Linked DNA regions of Homo sapiens. The protein of the gene in region 2 purifies or fractionates together with the protein of the main gene of each other region. This does not show direct contact. Each region holds a gene or a part of one and is shown on either strand. Other genes may lie near its edges.

The links.
Region 1: the proteins of SULT1A1 (region 2) and UBE4B fractionate together in Homo sapiens (co-fractionation; one large-scale study listed by BioGRID). This does not show direct contact.

What each region holds. Positions count from the first base shown.
Region 1 is NC_000001.11:10,178,790-10,181,830, reverse strand, and holds the end of UBE4B (ubiquitin conjugation factor E4 B), read right to left. Parts: coding exon 3,013-3,041; intron 2,416-3,012; coding exon 2,269-2,415; intron 1,937-2,268; coding exon 1,875-1,936; 3' UTR 592-1,874; downstream 1-591. UniProt on the Homo sapiens protein: Ubiquitin-protein ligase that probably functions as an E3 ligase in conjunction with specific E1 and E2 ligases. May also function as an E4 ligase mediating the assembly of polyubiquitin chains on substrates ubiquitinated by another E3 ubiquitin ligase.
Region 2 is NC_000016.10:28,607,795-28,611,544, reverse strand, and holds the start of SULT1A1 (sulfotransferase 1A1), read left to right. Parts: upstream 1-1,500; 5' UTR 1,501-1,614; exon of another isoform or gene 1,615-2,685; 5' UTR 2,686-2,689; coding exon 2,690-2,837; intron 2,838-2,941; coding exon 2,942-3,067; intron 3,068-3,156; coding exon 3,157-3,254; intron 3,255-3,750. UniProt on the Homo sapiens protein: Sulfotransferase that utilizes 3'-phospho-5'-adenylyl sulfate (PAPS) as sulfonate donor to catalyze the sulfate conjugation of a wide variety of acceptor molecules bearing a hydroxyl or an amine group.

The sequences.
Region 1 (3,041 bases), on a different chromosome or scaffold from region 2:
ATAAATATATATTTTTTCTTTTTTGAGACGGAGTCTCGCTGTCACCCAGGCTGGAGTGTGATGACGTCATCTCGGCTCACTGCAACCTCCACCTCCCAGGTTCAAGCAATTCTCCTGTCTCAGCCTCCCGAGTAGCTGGGACTACAGGCGCTGCCACTACGCCCGGCTAATTTTTTGTATTTTTAGTAGAGATGGGGTTTCACCATGCTGGCCAGGCTGGTCTCGAATTCCTGACGTCAGGTGATCCATCCGCCTCAGCCTCCCAAAGTGCTGGGATTACAGGCGTGAGCCACCGGGCCCGGCCTGAGGAAGAATCTTGAAGGTCAGGGAAGATACTTGAGATAAAGCAGAAGAAACTCAAGAAAGGCAGAAGACTGAATATGACAAAGCTTACCCCCTCAAATCAGCAAACAGTGAAATGAGAACCAAATGTCGAGACTGACATGAATAAGAAAGTTTTCTTTTAAAAATAGCAGCTCCTAATTGGATCCAGGAAAGATCATTCACCACATGCAAACTCACTTGGCTCTTGTTTACCCACCCGCCCTGCCCTTTTTTTTTTTCCACAAAAGAGAAGAGACTCAAAGAAGATTTCTTCTGAACGTGTGTCACCATTTATTGTAGTTTGCGTTAGGAATTGAACAGAGGACATTGTCTGTGGAGGGAAAAAAGGAAAAGAAAAAAGAAAGTATGCTTTTTATAGACTTAATTTCTTCAGAACACTTTATGGTTTCAAATCCTTTTTTTTTTTTTACCCCAAAGGAAATTTGAGAATTCAAGTATGTTAAGTAGGGAGCAGTAATACAAAAAGTCTTATACTTGTGTGCGCGTGTGGCTGTGTTTGTCTGTGTGTGTTGAAACCGGCAGACATACTCCCACATTCTTGCACCCTCTTTTGCTTTGGTAAGGCCAAACACATCACACAAATGACCCTGCCTCAAACTCACACACCCAAGGGTTGAAGAATTGATTTACCCCCAGAGGATAACTGTGAAGGTTTCAAACTGTCACGTAGCATTAAAAAAAAAACCCAACCCTCATCTCCCCAAAATATAAGTCACATAAGTCCTGATACACTTACACCCCTAGATTTTGCTGCAGCTGCTCCTCAGATGCCGAAGAGAGGCTTATCACAAGGACCAGAGCAGCAGGATTTTCTTTATTTTGTTTAGAATAAAAAAATCTTAAAGGGACATTTCAAAAGAAAAAAAAAACTGAAATTCAAATTCTGAAAATATCTTGCCTTTTTTATTAATCATGTCATCTAACACCAATTAAAAAAACAAATATGTGAATATGATATAAAAATACGATCCCAGGATTAACACTTGGTAGCAGGCACAGTTATCTCACAGAATATATGTTTGGAGGGCCAGGGAAAGGAGTTTACTTTTGTTTTTGCTTCTCTTAAAAAAATCCACAGCAGTGCAAGTAGGGTCAGGAAGGGGGAGAGGGGAAAAAAGATTCTTTAGCAGCAAAATGTCCAAGGTTCTCTAATCACAATCAAATCAACGGATATTGGATTAAAAAAAAATTCATGAAGGGATGCTGCCCAGACCCATTAGCCATCACTAAAAGACTTCCGTTGCCCCAAACTGTGACATACGAAGGACATGCTTTATTACACAAGCAACCATAAAACCTGTCCCTTAAGCTTTTGACCGTGTTTGTCACTTAAATATATGTACAGGAAGCGGGCTCCTCTTCTCATCCATGTCCTTTCAGGTCTCAGCGTTTGCTCGCTCTGGGTGGGCCTGGGGTTGGTTTGCCACATTTGGCCTCCAACACATGAACGGCAGCTTCGCTGCGGCCGCTGCTTCTGCTTGCCTCGTTGGCCTTGGCTGTGTCTAGCAGAGGGTGGGCGGCGGAACGGTTTAGTGATCGCTGTTCTGTTTCTCTCTCATCCACGCCTGAATCTGCTCTTTCAGTTCTGGCACTGAGAAAAGAAAAAAAGGAGGATTAATGCCCCAGATGGGAGGGCTCTTCCTGAGAGAGGATGCTTGTCGCTCTGTATAAATGGGAAGAAAAGGCCATTCTTTCCCTCATTGAGCCGAAGACTCCAGAAGGACTGGGACATGAGAGGGAGGGACTGGATGTCTGCAGGGAAAAAGGGCCAAGAGTGTTTTGGGTCTTTGCTACAGAGTGTCATAAAGTAGGTAGTTTCTGCATTTGATAAATTTCCCTTCTGCTTCATCTCCAATATGTGACTTGGGCTTTATCTCTTGGTACTGACGCCAGCGCTGCACCTCAAACTGCACCCTCCTCTACCTGGTTCCAGCATGCTCTCTGTCAGCGTCTGCCGGTTGAAGGGGTCCGTGGGGGAGTTGAGCAGGTGCCGCAGGATGATGGAGCGGTCCATGATGGTGCCAGAGGGCAGCCGCACGGGGTCTGTCATGAGGGTGTCCATCAGAGGGTCTGCGGGGACAAAGCAAAGCAAACTCTAATCTACTGAGAGCCCACGACTGAAAAAGAAAACAAAGCCCGTTCTACCAGCGAAAAATCTATCCAAAGGAACAGCAATCAAAGGGCCCCTGTGAGGCCCCCAGGTTTAGAAGGAAATCAGCCTTCAATAAAGGCATATACATTGCCTTTTGTAAGGGGAAGGCGCTTCTTTGTCAGCTACTGCTGGGGGGAGGGAACAGAGAAGAAAGCCTGGGACAGACCCAGCAGCAGGCCCCACAGGCTCCGTGGCGAGGACGGCAGGCTGGAATTCTTTGTCTTAGGACTTCTGGGAATTCTTTGAAAATGTGAATCCCCACTTGCAAAGGCAGCCCTGCCCTTAGAATCTTCAGGGTTGTTATCTGGCTTTAAGTCAGGCTAAGCTAAGGATGTTTCTTCCTCTCAATTTACAATATGAGCTAAAAATAGGCAAATGTAATTTAAGACAGATTGTCTCAAAAAGCAGCTCTAGCACACCATTAAAAAATTAATTGCACAGGACGTCCTCTTGTAATGTTATCGATTTCCAGTTAACTCAAAAGAAATCAGCATGAAAACGACGAGTCCACTTGCCTCTGAACTCATCAGGAGCGTCGCTGTAG
Region 2 (3,750 bases):
TATATTCATGAAGAGTCCAGGAAAAGGTAAAGATTTCTCAAGACCGTGGTGCCACAATTTACACCCAAATACAGGTGTTCCTGGAGCCGTCTTGGCACTGGTGGGTGTACGGTTTCATATGTTACTGATCATACAATGAGATCCTAGGTGAAACCTACATCAAATACAGCGCCATGTTGTGTCTGGTTGGTCGTAGCCAGCTTGGTCCTCATCCTATTTTTCAGGGACTTATTGGCCCTTAGCGCATGCAGCTATTTCAAGTTTCCTTCTTCTCCTCATGTGAAACTGCTGCCTGGGATTTTGTATTCACTTGCTACCACTCTATTAATCTCACATTCTCGCCTCTTTTCTGTGTCACCCCGTGTGGGTCCGACAGGTTGTTACTAGAGTGCAATACAAAGTCTTAGTCAAGGGAACCTCCTGAGGGTTGCTGAGGGCAGGGGTGGAGCTAGTAGCCTGAGGACCTGCCAGTCACGGGGATTCCTCATGGGCACAGAGGAGGGAGGAGGGGTCCATGGCCCTAGCATATGAGAAGCCTCTCCTCTGCCTGGAATTCCCATGCCTCAGCTTCCCCCACACTCCCACCTGTCCGCTTGCCTCTGAACTCACGCATTTCTTGGAAGTCTTGGGAGATTCACCTTTACTCAGATGGTTGTTTACCTGTCTCGTGCACAGCTTGACCTTGGACTTTAAAGTGAGGATAAAGAACGAGGAGGATGGGGGGATGCCCCCCTTCCACGGGGCCCTGTGGCTTCCAAACCTCGGCCTCCTCTGGTCTCTTGTCTGTGGAGCCTCCTTCAAACCCAGGGAAATAAAACCACCTGCCACGGGTTGTGGTTCTTCTAGGATCTTCTATCAATGTTCTCTGAGGTCCCCAGGAGCCATGAAGCTGGGGCTGACTCCCAGGGCAATGGGACTGCAGTGTCCTTGTTCTTTCTTGTTCTATGCATCCATGCTCTGCTCCACCCCTGCCCCTTCACTCTGCCCACACACATCCCTCTAGACTGGCCTTGTGGTCAGAGCCTGGAGTGCATGGGCTGCTGGGGGCCTGTGGGCTGCACTGGGCCAGAACCCCTGGCACCTTCAAGACTGGCCTGGAGCCAGCAGGTAGGTGACCTTTCCAGGGCCTGCCTATCCCAGCTTTCTCCTCCAATCCCTCCCCTCTCTTGCCTGGGTCAATTAGAGAGAGCTTGTCTGTTGGCTGCCTGGCAGGGTGGAGTTCAGGGGCAGGTCAGGAGCCCAGTGACAGCTCGGAAAAAAAAAAAAAAAAAAAAAAAAAACAGAAAAAAAAAACCTACAAAAACAAACCCACCATTGGGCCTTTCCCCTTTCATTCTTCTGTTTTCTACACAGCAAACTCAGTCGTGGCTTTGGAGATCACTTTAAGCTTGTCTCCAGCTGGCACACTAAGGAGGGTAATGGAGAAGCTCCCCCACCCCCAACCCCACCCCTTCCTTCCGGAAGCAAATCTAAGTCCAGCCCCGGCTCCAGATCCCTCCCACAGTGGACCTAGGAAACCCTCAGCTCAGAGAACAACCCTGCATTCCCCACACAACACCCACAATCAGCCACTGCGGGCGAGGAGGGCACGAGGCCAGGTTCCCAAGAGCTCAGGTGAGTGACACAGTGGAACGGCCCAGGGCGCCCTCACCCTGCTCAGCTTGTGGCTCTAACATTCCAGAAGCTGAGGCCTCTGGCATCCCTGCCCTTTCCCCATGGATATCCCATTTCAGACAACCCTGGCCTGCGTGAATCCCCCTCCCTTCCCTTGTTTGTTTGTTTTTTTCCCCGGGGAGGCCAGGTCTTGCTGTCACCCAGGCTGGAGTGCTGTGGGATCCTGGCCACTGCAGCCTTGAATTCCTGGGCTCAAGTGATTCTCTTGCCTCAGCCTCTGGAGTAGCTAGGACTACAGGCCCTCATCATCCTGCCTGGTTAATGTTTAAGAATTTTTTTAAAGATTTTTAGAGATGGGGTCTTGCAATGCTGCACCAGGTTGGTCTCCAACTCCTGGCCTCAGCCTCCCTAGGGTCTGGGATTATAGGTGGGAGCCACCCTGCCTAGGCCTGTGCTTTTGCTGAGTCATCAGAGTTTTGTTCATTCCCACAGCAGCTCTGGCCCCTAGTAGCAGCTCAGTTCCTCAATGGGCCGTGTTTGTCCTGGAGCCCAGATGGACTGTGGCCAGGCAAGTGGATCACAGGCCTGGCTGGCCTGGGCGGTTTCCACATGTGAGGGGCTGAGGGGCTCAAGGAGGGGAGCATCTCCACTGGGTGGAGGCTGGGGGTCCCAGCAGGAAGTGGTGAGACAAAGGGCGCTGGCTGGCAGGGAGACAGCACAGGAAGGTCCTAGAGCTTCCTCAGTGCAGCTGGACTCTCCTGGAGACCTTCACACACCCTGACATCTGGGCCTTGCCCGACGAGGGTGCTTTCACTGGTCTGCACCATGGCCCAGGCCCTGGGATTTTGAACAGCTCCGCAGGTGAATGAAAGGTGAGGCCAGGCTGGGGAACCACCGCATTAGAGCCCGACCTGGTTTTCAGCCCCAGCCCCGCCACTGAGTGGCTTTGTGAGTGCGGGCAAGTCACTCAGCCTCCCTAGGCCTCAGTGACTTCCCTGAAAGCAAGAATTCCACTTTCTTGCTGTTGTGATGGTGGTAAGGGAACGGGCCTGGCTCTGGCCCCTGACGCAGGAACATGGAGCTGATCCAGGACACCTCCCGCCCGCCACTGGAGTACGTGAAGGGGGTCCCGCTCATCAAGTACTTTGCAGAGGCACTGGGGCCCCTGCAGAGCTTCCAGGCCCGGCCTGATGACCTGCTCATCAGCACCTACCCCAAGTCCGGTAAGTGAGGAGGGCCACCCACCCTCTCCCAGGTGGCAGTCCCCACCTTGGCCAGCGAGGTCGTGCCCTCAGCCTGCTCACCTCCCATCTCCCTCCCTCTCCAGGCACTACCTGGGTAAGCCAGATTCTGGACATGATCTACCAGGGTGGTGACCTGGAGAAGTGTCACCGAGCTCCCATCTTCATGCGGGTGCCCTTCCTTGAGTTCAAAGCCCCAGGGATTCCCTCAGGTGTGTGAGTGTGTCCTGGGTGCAAGGGGAGTGGAGGAAGACAGGGCTGGGGCTTCAGCTCACCAGACCTTCCCTGACCCACTGCTCAGGGATGGAGACTCTGAAAGACACACCGGCCCCACGACTCCTGAAGACACACCTGCCCCTGGCTCTGCTCCCCCAGACTCTGTTGGATCAGAAGGTCAAGGTGAGGCAGGGCACAGTGTTTCACATCCATAATCCCAGCACTTTGGGAGGCTGAGGCAGGCAGATCACCTGAGGTTGGGAGTTTGAGAGCACCCTGAGCAACATAGAAGAACCTTGTCTCTACTAAAAATACAAAATTAGCCGGGTGTGGTGGCGGGTGCCTGTAATCCCAGCTACTCCGAAGCCTGAGACAGGAGAATCACTTGAACCCGGGAGAAGGAGGTTGTGGTGAGCCAGAGATCCCACCATTGCATTCCAGCCTGAGCAACAAGAGCAAAACTCACAAAAATAAATAAATAAATAAATATATAAATAAAAATAAAACTGTGGCACCTGTGGTGGCTCACTGCTGTAATGCCAGCACTTTGGGAGGCCAAATTGGGTGGATCACTTGAGCTCAGGAGTTACAGACCAGCCCGGGAAACATGGGGAGTCTCCATCTCTATAAAAATGCAAAATATCAGCAGGGCATGGTGGCATAGCGCTGTAGTTCCAGC